Regions from separate parts of the Homo sapiens genome. Here region 2 is linked to region 1. The links come from fine-mapping of genetic effects on gene expression. A gene starts in region 1. The other region holds a variant in brackets. All regions are shown on one strand. Distances are between the middles of the regions.

What was found.
Region 2: its variant is fine-mapped to the expression of SLC25A41 in whole blood (TOPMed, PIP above 0.99).

What each region holds. Positions count from the first base shown.
Region 1 is chr19:6,429,816-6,438,143 of GRCh38, forward strand. SLC25A41 (solute carrier family 25 member 41) reads right to left here and starts at 3,948. Exons shown (of 7, transcript NM_173637.4): 1 at 3,672-3,948; 2 at 2,234-2,389; 3 at 194-346; 4 at 1-16. The coding sequence starts at 3,878. It also overlaps a transcript of SLC25A23 not described here.
Region 2 is chr19:6,406,327-6,414,654 of GRCh38, forward strand. KHSRP (KH-type splicing regulatory protein) reads right to left here. Exons shown (of 19, transcript NM_001366299.1): 19 at 6,776-8,328. It also overlaps the pseudogene LOC390877. Among named protein-coding and RNA genes, the nearest start is that of MIR3940, 6.0 kb to the right of the region's middle. RefSeq lists enhancers at 5,371-6,195, 6,196-7,020. The variant T/C (reference allele first, on the strand shown) is at 4,338.

The DNA of each region.
Region 1 (8,328 bases):
AGAAGTAATTCTTGCACTGGGAGAGGAGAGAGGAGGGTGAGAGAGAAGTCAGCCACCCTCCGACACAAAACCCGCGCAGGGAAGAGGCCTGGGGTCTGGAGGGTGAGTGTGTGCTTGAACAAGGGCCTGGAGTTTTGGGGGCATGGGAGGGGTTTGGGCTTGAGCTGGGGGAAGCAGGCCCCTCATTCCCCACCTGCTCGAATACGGAGAACTTGATGGCATACTCAGGAGCAATCTTGAGCACGTTGATGCCGTTGCCCCGCCACAGGGAGCGGAAGCCGCCCTCCTGGACCATGCTCTGTAGCCCCCCCAGCAGGTTGGTGAAGTTCGTCTTGGAGGAGTAGACCTGGGTGGAGGGAGGACCCTGGAGGAGCCCCTGCTCGCCTCTGTCTCCGTCCCCATCCCTGCCCCAAGCGCAGCCCCACCGGGACCTCCCAAGCCACCCAACCCCAACCCATCCCCATCCCATCCCCATTCCTTCTTCAGCTCCTTCCCCGGCCAGTTCTAGAATCGCATGCAACCCTGACCCAAAGCCAACATCAACCTACATTCCCACCTCACCCCTCCTCTTCATCTCCTCAGTCTTTTTCTCTCTCTCTTTCTTCCTTCCATCCTTTCCTTTCTTTCTCCCTTTTTGTTCCCTCCCTCCCTCCCTTCCTCCGTTCCTCCCTTCCTTCTTTTTTTTTTTTTTTGACGGAGTCTCACTCTGTCGCCCAGGCTGGAGTGCGGTCGGGGGATCTCGGCTCACTGCAACCTCCGCCTCCCAGGTTCAGGCGATTCTCCTGCCTCAGCCTCCCGAGTAGCTGGGATTACAGGCTAGTGTCACCACGCCTGGCTTATTTTTGTATTTTTAGTAGAGCTGGGGGTTTGCCATGTTGGCCAGGCTGGTCTGGAACTCCTGACCTCAGGTGATCTGCCCACCTTGGCCCCCCAAATTGCTGGGATTACAGGCATCAGCCACCGCGCCTGGCCTTCTTTTCCTTTTCTTTCTTGTTTTTTTGTTTGTTTATGTTTTCGAGACAGGATCTTGTTCTGTTGCCCAGGCCGGAATGCAGTGGTGCAATCACAGCTCACTGCAGCCCCAAACTCCTGGGCTCAAGTGATCCTCCCACCTCAGCCTTCCAAGTAGCTGGGACTACAGGTGCGTGCTACCATGGCAGGCTAATTTTGTAAAATTTTTTGTATAGATGGGGTCTTACTATGTTGCCCAGGCTGGTCTCAAACTCTTGGGCTCAAGCGATCTTCCCACTTTGGCCTCCCAAAGTGCTGGGATTACAGGTGTGAGTCACCATGCCCGACTCCTTTTTAAATTTTTAATTAATTAATTAATTAATTATTATTTTGTAGAGATGTGGTCTGACTATATTGCCCAGCTGGTCTCAAACTCCTAAGCTCAAGTAATCCTCCCTCCTTGGCCTCCCAAAGTGAGCCACTGCACCCGTTTATTTTTTCAGCCAGGGATCTCGCTCTGTCACCCAGGCTGGAGTTTGTGGCATGATCATGGCTCACTGCAGCCTCCAACTCCTGGGCTCAAGCAATCCTCCTGCCTCAGCCTCCTGAGCAGCTGAGACTATGGGTGTGAGATATCCTGCTTGAGGTAGCTCCAGTTCTATGTTGCCTTTTTTTTTTTTCTTTCTTTTTTGAGACAGAGTCTCACTCTGTTGCCCAGGCTGGAGTGCAGTGATGCAATCTCGGCTCACTGCAACCTCCATCTCCTGGGTTCAAGCAATTCTCCTGCCTCAGCCTCCTATGTAGCTGGGACTACAGGCACGCACCACCATGCCCGACTAATTTTTTTGTATTTTTAGTAGAGACAGGGTTTCGCCATGTTGGCCAGGCTGGTCTCAAACTCCTGACCCCAGATGATCTACCTCCCCTGGGCCTCCCAAAGTGCTGGCATTAGAGGCATGAGCCACTGCACCTGGCCCCTACCTTGTCTTTAAACTCGTCCAAAGACCCCATCCCCAATTCCCTGACCTCCAACCCCCACCTTGGCCCAGCGTTGGTCCCTGTCCCTGGCAAGTTCTCTCAACTCCTCAAACTCGACTCCAAGCCATGTCCACACCAGCTCTATCACCATCCACAACCTCAATCTCAGCTAGTCCAGGAGAGCCCAACTCCAGCCAGCACTCCTATCCTGAACTCCATCCACGTCAACTCCATCTGTCCTCACCCCACGTTCTCCCCAGTGGCTCCAGCGCTGGGTCCCGTCCTCCCCCCAACCCACACAAACCTGCATGTACACCTTGGCTCTGTCCAGAGGTGCCGTGCCCGTGCGAGACACCGCCCCGGCCATAGCTCCTGAGAGTAGAAACTTCCACAAGGCCTCCTTGTTATCCACTTCCAGGACTTCCACGGGGACCATCAGCTGCTCTCCTGTGTCCAGTACCTGCAGGGCAGACCCGGCCCTCCCTCATCCTCAGCCAGGTTGGGGCACCTTCCCCAGACACACATCTAGGGCACCCACCTGGTGAAAGACCCACCCTGTTCCCCCAAGTCTGCATTTTTTTTTTTCGAGACGGAGTCTTGCTCTGCTGCCCAGGTTAGAGTGCAGTGGCACAATCTCAGCTCGTTGCAACCTCCACCTCCCAGGTTCAAGCAGTTCCTGCCGCAGCCTCCTGAGTAGCTGGGATTATAGGCATGCACCACAACACCTAATTTTTTTTTTTTTTTTTTTTTTTTTTTTTAGTAGAGATGGGTTTCACTATGTTGGCCAGGCTGGTCTCTAACTCCTGACCTCAAGTGATTCAACCCTCCCCCCTGGTTTTTTTTTGTTTTGTTTTTGTTTTTTTTTAGACAGAGTCTCACTCTATCGCCCAAGCTGGAGTACAGTGGTGCGATCTTGGCTCACTGCAACCGCTGTCCCCCTGGTTCAAGCGATTCTCGTGTCTCAGCTTCCCAAGTAGGGACAATGGTGTGATCTCGGCTCACTGCAACCTCCGCCTCCTGGGTTCAAGTGATTCTCTTGCCTCAGCCTCCCCAGTAGCTGGGATTACAGTGCCAACGTGCCGAGCAAATTTTTGTATTATTTTAATAGAGGCAGGGTTTCACCATGTTGGCCAGGCTGGTCTTGAACTCCTGACCTCAGGTGATCCACCTGCCTCAGCCTCCCAAAGTGCTGGGATTACAGGTGTGAGCCACCACACCCAGCCAATGTAATATAGACTCTCTAAGTTACTCATGGAGGATCCAAGGAGGAATACAAATGTAATTAGGACTATATCTAGACTCTTAATTTATTCTTATTTTTTGAGACAGAATCTCGCTGTGTTGCTCTGGCTTGAGTGCAGTGATGAGATCTGGGCTCACTGCAACCTCTACCTCCTGAGTTCAAGCGATTCTCCTGCCTCAGCCTCCTGAGTAGCTGGTACTACAGGCGCCAACCACCATGCCTGGCTAAGTTTTGTAATTTTAGTAGAGATAGGGTTTCGGCATGTTGGCCAGGTTGGTCTTGAACTCCTGTCCTCAAGTGACCCATCCACCTCAACCTCCCAAAGTGCTGGGATTACATGTGTGGAGCCATCGCGCCCTGCCTCCCTGCCCCACCCTGCTTCAAGGTGGAATTCTAGGTCCGCTAGCAGGGGAGTGGGCCTGTAGAGGGCGTGGGTAGCCTGGCCTCTCCCTGTAGTCCTGACCAGAGGTGCCGGGACACTGGTGTTTCCTAAACTCACCTGCTGTGACGGGAGATGTTCAAGGTTGTTGTCATGCATGTGGCCAAACGCGTACCCATACACGTGTGTACAGCCAGGGTTCCAGGATGGGGGTGGAGGCGGAGGTTGGGGGGGAGGCGGGGCTTTGATGAGTAAGGTCTTGACCCTCCTAAACAGTGTCTGGATCCTAGAGCAAGTGTTCTGAGGTTCCCCAGGCTGAGCGCCCATGGAGGAAGTTAGGACACCTGGCTTCAAATCCCTAAGCAGTTGTTTGCTGCTCCAGCTACCATGCGGGAGTGTCTAGTGGGAGGATTGTGTGGGGGACCAAGAGGAGGATGAAGTCACAAACGCCCCTGTGACCTTCCTAGGTGTGGTGGGCAGCGTGATGGCCCCCTTCCCCCAAGTATCCACCTCCTGATCCCCCAAACCAATAAATATGTTATCGTTATAAATTGAATTGTGTCCTGTCAAAATTATTATTATTATCGTTTTTTTTGAGACGGAGTCTCGCTCAGTCTCCCAGGCTGGAGTGCAGTGGCGCTATCTTGGCTCACTGCAAGCTCCGCCTCTGGGGTTCACACCATTCTCCTGCCTCAGCCTCCCGAGTAGCTGGGACTACAGGCATCCGCCACCACGCCCAGCTAATTTTTTTATTTTTTAGTAGAGACGGGGTTTCACCGTGTTAGCCAGGATGGTCTCGATCTCCTGACCTCATGATCTGCCCACCTCAGCCTCCCAAAGTGCTGGGATTACAGGCGTGAGCCACTGCTTCCGGCCGCAAAATTCTTATGTTGAAGCCCTATTTCCCAGTGGGTTGGAATTTGGAGACAGGGCCTTTGGGAGGTCCTCAGGGTTAGATGAACTCATGAGGATGGCCCCTGCAAGATGGAATTAGTTCCCTATAAGGAAAAGACAAACCAGAGCTCTTTCTCTCTCTCTGTCTGCCATGGGAGGACGCAGCAAGAAGGCATGGCAGGAAGAAATCCCTCAGCAGGAACTGAGCTAGCCAGCCACCTTAACCTTGGATTTCCCAGCCTCCAGAAATAAATGTCTGCAGTTTAAGACCCCGCTCTTTAGTGTTTCCTTATAGCAGCCTGGGCTGACTTACATTTGTTACATGGCAAAGGGGAATTAAGTTTGCAGATACAAATAAGGTTGCTAGGCCTGATGTGGTGGCTGACGCCTGTAATCCCAGCACTTTGGGAGGCCGAGGTTGGCAGATCATCTGAGGTCAGGAGTTCGAGACCAGCCTGACTAACATAGTGAAACCCAGTCTCTCCTAAAAATACAAAAATTAGCCAGGTTTGGTGGTGTGCCCCTGTAATCTCAGCTACTCTGGAGGCTGAGACAGGAGAATTGCTTGAACCCAGGAGACAGAGGTTGCAGTGGGCCGAGATTGAGCCATTGCACTGCAGCCTGGGCAACAGAGCGAGACTCCATCTCAAACAAACAACAACAACAACAAAACTTTGCTAGGCTGGGCGCCGTGGCTCATTCCTATAATAGCAGCACTTTGGGAGGTCAAGGCAGGTGGATCACTTGAGCCCAGGAGTTCAAGACCACCCTGGGCAACATGGCCAGACCCCTGTCTCTATAAAAAATACAAAAATTAGCTGGGCATGGTGGTCCATGCCTGTGGTCCCAGCTACACAGGAGGCTGAGGTGGGAGGGTTGCTTGAGCTTGGGAGGTGGAGGCTGCAGTGAGCTGAGATCTTGCCACTGAACTCCAGCCTGGGTGACAGAGCGAGACCCTGTCTCAAAAAAAAAAAAAAGAAAAAAAAAAAAAGAATTAAGGTTGCTAAACAGCTGATGGGAAATGGTCTCACTCTGTCACCCAGGCTGGAGTATAGTGGCACACTTAAGGTCAATCCCCTTGACCTCTCTGTTCAGGTGGTTCTCCCACTTCAGCCACCCGAGTGGCTAGGAACACAGGTGCGGACACCACGCCCGGCTAAGTTTTAAAAATTATTTTTGGCTGGGCGTGGTGGCTCACACCTGTAATTCTAGCACTTTGGGAGGCCAAGGCAGGTGGATCACCTGAGGTCAGGAGTTTGAGACCAGCCTGGCCAACATGATAAAACCCCGTGTCTACTAAAAATAACGAAAATTAGCTGGGTGTGGTGGTGCATACCTGTAATCCCAGCTACTCAGGAGGCTGAGGCGGGAGGATCACTTGAGTCCAGGAGTTCAAGACCAGCCTGGGCAGCAAAGCAAGAAATTTTTCTACAAAAATTTTTTAAAATTAGCCAGGTGTGGTCATGTGCACCTGTAGTCCCAGCTACTTGGGAGGCTGAAGGGGGAGGCTCCCTTGAGCACAGGAATTAGAGGCTGCAGTGAGCTATGATTGTGCCACTGCACTCCAGCCTGGGTGACAGAGTAAGACCCAGTCTCTAAAAAACAAAAAAAGTAGTCAGGCATGGTGGTGTGTGCCTGTGGTCCCAGCTACTCCGGAGGCTGAGATGGGAGCATCACCTGAGCCTGGGAGTTTGAAGCTGCAGTGAGCCATGATTGCACCCCTGCATTCCAGCCTGGGGAGGGGACAGAGTGAAACCCTGTTTCAAAAACCAAAACCGAAACCAAACAAACAAACAAACAAAAAACCTGACAAAATCATATACATGTAGGTATATATGTATTAGCCAGCTGTTGCCATGTGACGAATTACCCCCCCGCCAAAGGTTGGCAGCTTAACACAACAAACATTTATCATCTCACCCATATTCTGAGCATTAGGAACTCAGGAGCCGCTGAGCCGGCTGTTCCCGTGATCAGTGTTTGAAGTATAAGAGTCTAAGATTCAGGATTCAGGTACTGGGATCCAGTTGTTTCGGTGGAGGGATCCACAAAGCTTGGACTATCCAGGGAATTCAACTGATAGAATTGCAGTGAGATGTTGGCCAGGACAGCAAGATCCTCTTCCAAGCTCAGTTACATGGCTATTGGCTGAGTTCCTTACCACATGGTCCTCTCCATAAGGCTGCTCATGGCATGACCACCGGCTTCCTCCAGAGCAAATGTTATGAGAAAGGGGGAGAGAGAGAGAGAGAGCATGTAACCAATAACCAGGATGGCAGCGACAGTGTCTTTTTTTTTTTTTCTTTGAGACATAGTTTTGCTCTTGTTGCCCAGGCTGGAGTGCAGTGGCACAATCTCGACTCACTGCAACCTCTGCCACCCAGGTTCAAGCAATTCTCCTGCCTCAGCCTCCTGAGTAGCTGGGATTATAGGTGCCCGCCACCACGTCCGGCTAATTTTTGTACTTCTAGTAGAGACGGGGTTGCCATGTTGGCCAGGCTGGTCTCGAACTCCTGACCTCAGGTGATTCACCCGCCTCGGCCTCCCAAAATGCTAGGATTATAGACGTGAGCCACTGCACCCAATCTTTTATTTTTTTATTTTTTGAGATGGAGTCTTGCTCTGTTACCCAGGCTGGAGTGCAATGGACCAATCTTGGCTCACTGCAACCTCCACCTCCTGGGTTCAAGTGATTGTCCTGCCTCAGCCTTCCGAGTAGCTGGGATCACAGGCATGTGACACCATGCCCGGCTAATTTTTGTATTTTTAGTAGAGACGGGGTTTCACCATGTTGGCCAGGCTGGTCTCAAACTCCTGGGCTCAAGTGACCTTGAACTCCTGAGCTCAAGTCATCCTCCCATCTCAGCCTCCTGAGCAGCTGGAACTACAGGTATATGCCATCATGCCCAGCTAATTGAAAAATTTTTTGTAGAAATGGGGTCTCACTGTGTTGCCCAGGCTGGTCTCAAACTCCTGGCCTCAAGCGATCCTCCCACCCCGACCTCCCAAAGTGCTGGGTTTACAGATATGAGCTACCCCACCCACCCTGAATTTTCTATTTTTTCCACAATAAATTTGAATTACTCATTGTGGGTTGAACTTTGTCCCCCAAAAAGATGTGTTCAAGCCCTAACCCCAGTAACCTGCAAATGTGACCTTATTTGGAAATACGGTCTTTGTAGATATAATCAAATTAAAATGAGGTTACACTGGATTGGGGGGGGTTGCCCTAATCCGATGACTGCTGTCCTTACAAGACATGGAATCGGCCAGGCGCAGTGGCTCACGCCTGTAATCCCAACACTTTGGGAGGCTGAGGCAGGCGGATCACGAGGTCAGGAGTTCAAGACCATCCTGGCTAACATGGTGAAACCCCGTCTCTACTAAAAATACAAAAAATTAGCTGGGCATGGTGGCGGGTGCCTGTAGTCCCAGCTACTTGGGAGGCTGAGGCAGGAGAATGGCATGAACCCAGGAGGCGGAGCTTGCAGTGAGCCAAGATCGCGCCAGTGCACTCCAGCCTAGGCGACAGAGCAAGACTCCATCTCAGAAAAAAAAAAAGGCCGGGCGCGGTGGCTCATGCCTATAATCCCAGCACTTTGGGAGGCATCCTGGCTAACATGGTGAAACCCCATCTCTACTAAAAATACAAAAAAAAAAAAAAATTAGCTGGCTGTGGTGGCGGGTGCCTGTAGTCCCAGCTACTTGGGAGGCTGAGGCAAGAGAATGGCATGAACCCGGGAGGCGGAGCTTGCAGTGAGCCGAGATCGTGCCACTGCACTCCAAAAAAAAAAAAAAAAACAAACTTGGAATTTGCACTTTGGGAGGCCGAGGCGGGTGGATCACTTGAGGTCAGGAGTTCAAGACCAGCATAGTGAAACCC
Region 2 (8,328 bases), 23 kb before region 1:
CACCCACCTTGGCCTCTTAAAGTGCTTGGATTACAGGTGTGAGCCACCACGCCCGGCCTAAACTCCCACTTTTTACATTTCTTGCTCAGTCCTGGAATGGGTCTTTTCCAGAAGCCCTTTTCGTGGTGCAAAATTAGGGTTCAAAGAATACTCGTTGCTATTGGGTTGTCATCGTTTCTGGATCTTCCCAGTGAACAGAGCTAAGAAACACATACTCTTGAAAGAGAAAAAGAAATCACAAGTTCATTCTGATATTTCACGTTCACGTGACACTTACAGTGTTGTTCCTTCCCTTTTCTCTTTCCCTAAAAATTTTGGTTCTTAATACCACTAACATACTCATTTGCATCATACCATTAGATACCAAATAGTTTGAAAACAATATGCCAACATTAACTACTAAGAATAAAACTATATGTGTTGAAACATCACTATGTACCCTATACACATGTACAATTATTGGGTCAAAACAATAAATAAAAGAATAAAATTAGAAAAGGAAGTTTAAGATTTCTTTATAGCTCTCATTTTCCTTTATTATTATTATTTATTTATTTTAGTTTTCTTTTTTGAGACAGAGTCTTGTCCTTTGTCCAGGCTGGAGTGCAGTGGCATGATCTCGGCTCACTGCAACCTCTGCCTCCCAGGTTCAAGCGATCTCTGGATAATTTTTGTATTTTTAATAGAAATGGGATTTCGTCATGTTGGCCAGGCTGGTCTCAAACTCCTGACCTCAGGTGATCCACCCGCCTTGGCCTCCCAAAGTGCTGGGATTACAGGCGTGAGCCACCGTGCTTGGCCTCGTTTTCCTTTAATATGTAGGTCCTCTGTATCCATGGGGGATTGGTTCCAGGATCTGTCTCAGATACCAAAATCCATGGATGCTGAAGTTTTTTTGTTTGTTTGTTTTTGAGACAGGGTCTCGCTCTGTCGCCAGGCTGGAGTGTAGTGGCGTGATCTCTTCTCACTACAACCTCCGCATCCCGGGTTCAAGCAATTCTCCTGCCTCAGCCTCCTGAGTAGCTGGGATTATAAGCATGTGGCACCATGCCCGGCTAATTTTGTATTTTTAGTAGAGACAGGGTTTCTCCATGTTGGCCAGGCTGGTCTTGAACTCCTGACCTCAGGCGATCCACCCACCTCGGCCTCCCAAAGTGCTGGGATTACAGGCGTGAGGCACCACACCTGGCTGCTCACATTTCTGATATACAATAACACAGTAGTGGCCAGGTACGGTAATCACACCTGTAATCCCAGCACTTTGGGAGGCCGAAGTGGGAGCTCAGGAGTTTGAGGCCGGCCTGGGCAACATAGTGAGACCCCATCTCTAAATAAATTACATATTCAAAGAGTTAAATAATAAAATAGCATAGTATTTGCATAGAACCTATGATCACCCTCTCATATACTGTAAGTCATCTCTAGATTACTTGTAATACCTAAAACAATGTAAATGTTATGTAAATAGTTGTTATAGTGTATTGCTTAGGGAATAATGACAAGGAAAAAATTCTGGGCTGGGCAAGGTGGCCCACGCCTGTGGTCCCAGCTACTCAGGAGAGTGAGGTGAGATCGCTTGAGCCCAGGAGTTTGAGGCTACAGTGAGCTATGATTGCGCCACTGTACTTCAGCAAGACCCTGTCTCAAACAAATAAAAAAAAGAATTTTATTTTGGACATTGTGAGGTATGGGGAAAAAAACCAGACCCTGTCTTAAAAAAAAAAAAAAAAAGTCTATACATGTTCAATACAGAGGCAACTTGTTTTCCAAATATTTTCTTTTCTTTTTTCTTTTTTGAGACAGAATTTCCCTTTTGTTGCCCAGGCTGGAGCGCAATGGCGCGATCTCGGCTCACTGCAACCTCCGCCTCCTGGGTTCAAGCGATTCTCCTGCCTCAGCATCCCGAGTAGCTGAGATTACTACCACACCCGGCTAATTTTTTGTATTTTTAGTAGAGATGGGGTTTCACCATGTTGGCCAGGCTGGTCTCGAACTCCTGGCCTCAAGTGATCTGCCCACCTTGTCCTCCCAAAGTGCTGAGATTACAAGCGTGAGCTACTGCGCCCGGCATCCAAATATTTTCAGTCTGAGGTTAGTTGAATTCACAGATGCAGAACTCACGCATATGGAGGACCAACTCTATCCCACTATAGATGCACCATAATAAAAATACAGGGTTGGCCAGGCAACCCTACATAATGAAACCTAACTGAAACAAATGACCCAACTATGTATCTATTGCATTCCTTAATTACACAGAAAATATATATATATATCTTTTTATATGGAGTCTTGCTCTGTCACTCAGGCTGGAGTGCAATGGCACAATCTGGGCTCACTGCAACCTCCGCTTCCTGGGTTCAAGCGATTCTCCTGCCTCAGCCTCCCAAGTAGCTGGGATTAAAGGCACGCACCACCACACCCAGCTAATTTTGTATTTTTAGTAGAGATGGGGTTTCACCATGTTGGTTAGGCTGGTCTCGAACTCCTGACCTCAAGTGATCTGCCCATCTTGGCCTCCCAAAGTGCTGGGATTACAGGCGTGAGCCACCGTGCCCAGTCAGAAAATAATTATTTCAAATGACCTTGTATCCTTTTTTTTCCCCCCCACTCAGAAGGCTGAGGCGGGAGGATCACTTGAGTTGGGTAGTTCAAGGCCCCAGTGAGCTATGGTCACGCCACTGCACTCTATCTAGCCTGGGTGACAAAAGTAGACCTTGTCTGAAAAAAACCCAAAAACCCATAACCAGCATTCACAAGAGGTTTGGGCACAGATACAACAATGGTTAGACCTGGCTGTCTGGGGATTCCTCACGCTATCCTCTTCTGTGTGCGTTTGCAGTATTTCATTACATCAACTTCTTTTCTCTGTTGTCCAGACTGGAGTGCAGTGGTGTCATCTTGGCTCACTGAAATCTCTGCTTCCTGGGTCAAGCGATTCTCCTGCTTCAGTCTCCTGAGTAGCTGGGTCTGCAGGCGTGCACCACCATGCCAGGATAATTTTTATATTTTTAATAGAGACGGGGTTTCACCATGTTGGCCAGGCTGGTCTCAAACTCGTGACCTCAAACGATCTGCCCGCCTCGGCCTCCCTAAGTGCTGGGATGACAGGCCTGAGCCACCATGCCAGCCTGTTTTTTTGTTTTTTTTAACTTTGCCATATATCCATCCAGAATATCTCACATCAGTGTCAAGAGATATTCCTTGTTTCTTTTTTTACAGCTGTGTAGTATTCCATTGTGTGGCCACGCCATTGTATATTCAGCTAATCTCCTATGGGCAATAAATTACTTTCAATCCTTTGCCACTACAGACAATGCCACATTAAATAATAACCTTTGCATGTCATTTCACCTTTTTGCTAGTATCCTTGAAATAGATTAGGAGTGGAATTGCTGGATTAAAGAGAAATGCATAATTTTGCTAGCCATCACCAGATTCCTCTTCATTTTACATTTACAGTGAGACCTACAGAACATGCTGCCAAGGTTTTGGATTTTTGTCAACCTGTGTAGGTGAGAAGTGGTATTTCAGTGTGGTTGTAATGAGCATTTCTCTGGCTACAATTGAGTTTTAATATCTTTTGCAAAGTTTAAGGGCCAAGCTGGGCACAGGGACACATACCTGTAGTCCTAGCTATTCAGGAGGCTGAGGTGGGAGATCGCTTGAGCCCAGGAGTTCAGGGCTGCAGTGAGCTATGATCTTGCCACTACACTCCAGCCCAGGCAACAGAGTGAGACCCTGTCTCTAAAAATACAAAAAGTTTGAAAGGTGTTTTGTTGTCTTCTTCAGTAAACTCTTTCTCTCTCTCTCTCTCTCTATATATATATATATATATATTTTTTTTTTTTTTCTGACAGGTTGTTGGCTTTTTCCTTTCTTCTTTTCTTTTCTTTTTTTTTGAGGCAGAGTCTTGCTGTGTTGCCCAGGCTGGAGTGCAGTGGTGTGATCTCTGCTCACTGCAACCTCTGCCTCCCGGGTTCAAGCGATTCTCCTGCTTCAGCCTCCCGAGTTGCTGGGACTATAGGCGTGCACCACCACGCCCGGATAATTTTCGTATTTTTAGTAGAGATGGGGTTTCACTGTGTTGGCCAGGTTGGGCTGGAACTCCTCACCTCAAGTGATCCACCCACCTCAGCCTCCCAAAGTGCTGGGATTACAGGCGTGAGCCATCATGCTTGGCCATTGCATCACATTTGGATCACATGACAATTATAAACTAGTTTGGGAAGACTCAGCTCCTTTATAATGTTGAGTCTTTCTATCCAAGAATATATATCTGATCCTTCTGTGCAAGTATCCTTTTGAGTCACTTAAGAATATTTTACTTTTTAGGC[T/C]GGGCGCGGTGGCTCATGCCTGTAATCCCAGCACTTTGGGAGGCTGAGGTGGGCAGATCACCTGAGCTCAGGAGTTCGAGACTACCCTGGCCAACATGGCGAAACCCCGTTCCTACTAAAAATACAAAAATTAGCTGGGCGTGGTGGTGGCTGCCTGTAATCCCAGCTACTTGGGAAGCTGAGGCAGGAGAATTGCTTGAACCTGGGAGACGGAGGTTGCGGCGAGCCGAGATCGCGCCACCGCACTCCAGCCTGGTTGACAGAGCAAGACTCTGTTTCAAGGAAAAAAAAAAAAAAAAGAGGAGGAAAAAAGTATTAGAACCATATTTGCTTGCAGTGTGCATGCCTCATAGCTTTCGAAGGAGACACAGGAGCAGGTAACTAGGCTGCCTCCAGGGAGAGTGACCCTGGGTGGTTGGAGATGGCGAGATGCTTCACTGTGTGTGTGTGTGTGTTTGGCAGTGAATGTCCTGTCCTCTCCAAAAAGTAAATACGTAAAACTTGAGCTAGAAAAATAAAACAAGGTTGGGCATGGTGGCTCACGCCTATAATCCCAGCACTGTGGGAGGCCAAGACGGGAGGATCACCTGAGGTTAGGAGTTCGAGACTAGCCTGACCAACATGGCAAAATCCCGTCTCTACTAAAAGTACAAAAATCAGCTGGGTGTGGTGGTGTGCACCTGTAATGCCAGCTACTTGGGAGGCTGAGCCAGGAGAATTGCTTGAACCTGGGAGGAGGTGGTTGCCGTGAGCTGAGATCGTGCTATTGCACTCCAGCCTGTGCGACAGAGTGGGACTCCATCTCAATAAATAAATAAATAAATAAATAAATAAATAAATAAATAAATAAAACAGACCAGGGTGGCCTGATTATTCCTTACGTGCCCAAATAAATAAATAAATAAATAAATAAATAAATAAATAAAACAGACCAGGGTGGCCTGATTATTTCTTACCTGCCCACGTAATCCTAGATACCTGGTTTCTGGGGAAGCCGGGGTTCTGGAGCCACTGTGCCTGGTCCCTCCACACCCAGCCCCCTTGTTCGGGTTCCTAGGTGGGCCAGGCCCCCAGCGTCGTCATCGTGTTTGACTGCTCCATGGAGACGATGCTCCGACGAGTGCTACACTGGGGCCAGGTGGAGCACCGGGCAGACGACTCGGAGCTGGCCATCCACCAGCGCTTGGACACGCACTATACCTTGTGTGAGCCGGTCTTGACCTACCAGCGCAATAACCTGCTCTGAAACGTAGGTGCTCCCCGCTTCTGGCTCACTGCACCCCAACCCCTAGGGAACAAGTCTGGCTTTAACAGTCCAGGGTCACCCGGGCCTGGTCCTCGCTTTCCTACCAGGTAACCTGGGGGATTCCCATTCCCCCAGGAAATGCCTTGAGAACCCAGCCTTGGCTCACGTGGGAAGGCAATGGGACACTGGTGGGGCCTCCCTGCACGCCCTCACACAGCAGTCAGCAACACAAGCTTTCCTGACCCTGTCCCCTCTCCCTTCACGTGCATGCCTCTGGGATTTTCCCAGGGTCTGAGCGGGAGAGGGTGGTGTCCCTGCCGTGGGGCCCAGACCTGACCCCTGCGGCTCCCCTTTCTCTAGATCCCGGCAGAAGCAGCACCAGAGAACATCTTTGCCAAGTGCTGCTCTGTCATTGAGAGTCTGCAGTGAGACAGAGGGGCTGGGGGTGGGCCTTGCCCCTCACCGGAACCCGTGCAGTACGTGGGAAGGGTGCGTACCTAGGAGGTGAGACCTCCAGAAAGGGGGACCGATGCCCCCTGTGATTCCAGAGCAACAGGTTCCCTTTCCCGGGGTCTGTTTCCCCACCAGGGAGGTTGGCCAGGGGCCACCAAGGAACATGCCCCACTGGGCCAGGTGCCTGGCACACCTGCATGGGTCAGGGGACTGTCAACAGCCCCCCCTAGAGGCCACAGCTGTTACTGGCTCCTGCCGGGGCTATCACCAGGCCCATGAGCCCAGGACATCTAAGATGAAGCGAGTTTTAAACGCTGGCATTCAGCCACAACCTCAGAGACCCTGCAGCTGCATGCGGGGCTGCAAGACACCTGCCCAGGTCCAAACAGCTTGGGTGGCCCCTCGGTGCCCTCTCCCACCTCACATCCGGTCCCATCACCCAGCGAGCACTGACGCGGGCCTGGCTCCCACCTCAGGGCTCTGAACGTTAACAGGCCAGAGGACCTCCTGTAGCAACAGCCCATCCATGGGAACGCCGGTCCCTGAGGCCCTCCTGAGCGCCTTGCTCCCCAAGGTGCTGGAGGGAAACTGGGTAGGGGAAGACAGCAGTGCTGGGCTCAGCCAGCCTCCCCTTCCCACATGGGAAGGGGAAAGTCTTGGGGGGCCACACCCCACTCTAATTGGCTGAGACTTGCTCAACTTGTTTCCTCTCACAAACACAACTGCGGCCAGCACGCAGTCTTTTTTAAACAAAAAGCACTTTATTTAACAAAAAAAAAAAAGGGGGGGGGGCACGGTTAGGAAAGCACATTGAGCCTGAAGAAAACTATTTTATATTTTTCTTAAAAAAAAAAAAACACAAAGTTTGTAAATTTCAATCACCATTATCAGGCTTTTTAAACAACATCTATAAAGAACAAACATCCGCTTCAAAACTACAGGGAGGGAAGGAAAGGGGGGGAGACAGACAGCACCCGCAGACGGGGAGGTTTTGTTATCATTTATTTGTGAAGTTAAAAACGAGCGATAAAAAGTAAAAACTGCCATACAATTTTTTTTGTTGTTCTCATTTTGTTTTCAGTTTCAATCTCCTCTTGAACAGATGAAAAGACAACAGACCAGTCCTGGGAGGGGGGACGGGCGGGGCCGCGGGAGCTGAGCCAGGGCGGGAGGGAGAGAAGAGGGGGCTTGGCTGCTGGGGGAAGGGGTCCTGCAATACAACACCTGGTCCAAGGAATGTTCCACCTCTAACTAAAAAAAAGAAATAGCAAGAGTGACTTTTTTTTTTCCTTTTTAAAAGTTTATTTTAAAAACAAGAGGGCCGAGGGTGGGAGAAAATGAATTGCTTTATCCTCAGAGAGGCAGGTTCAGGAAGGCTGGGGGGTGAAGAATAGAGACTTTTTAATATATATATATATAATTTTATAAGTTCTGCTTTGCTCTTTGTGTTTTTAATTTTTAAGTTTTTTTTTTTTTTTGGCAGAGATTTAGATCTCGCTATCTTCTCTGGCTGGCTCAACATGGAAGGATCCCAATTTTGAAAGAAAAAGCATGTGAGACACAGAACAGGCGAGAGAGTGAGGGCCCGGCATGCCCCCAAGTCCCCCCCACCCTGCTTGCCGCGAGGGCTCCCCAGTACTCCCCACGGCAGCCATCGCTCTCTCGCCAAACAAAACAGAAGCCCCCAAACAGAACAAAATGGAAAAAAAAAAGATTTTTCACAGATGAAGAAGTTCACATTCATTCGATTCATTGAGCCTGCGGAGAGGGAAGAGATAGGAATTGGTCACTACGGGGAGGGAAGGGTGGGAGACTAGGGGGCGGAAGAGAGGAGGGGCTGGAACACCGTGGGGGGGGCCAGGAAGCCCCCTCCCAAACCTGCGCTGGCTCAGGCTGGAAGGACGTGCTTGTTAACTGTCTAGCCAGGTGCTCGCGGGACTCGCTGAAGTCACGCTGCTCCCTGATGGAGAAGGAGGGACAGAGCAGGAAGAGAGGAGAGGGGCCGCGGAGGGCGGAGGCGCTAGGGTCGTAGGGGAGCTGCCCTGTCTCCGGAGGGCGGTGGCTCCCGGCGCAGCACGACGACATGAACAATCCAGAGATCATGGTGTCCCCACAACACCCCTGTGAGGTAGGTTGGAAGGTGGCAACGATCTTCACGCCCACTTCACAGACAAGCCCGGGACACAGGCAAGCGCGAGCGCATGGGAGGCTGAGCCCGGCGGGGCAGGGGCCTGGGCCGCTCCCCGCGTCCCCACCAGTCCCTGCCAGAGCCAGGCCGCCTGCAACACAGTC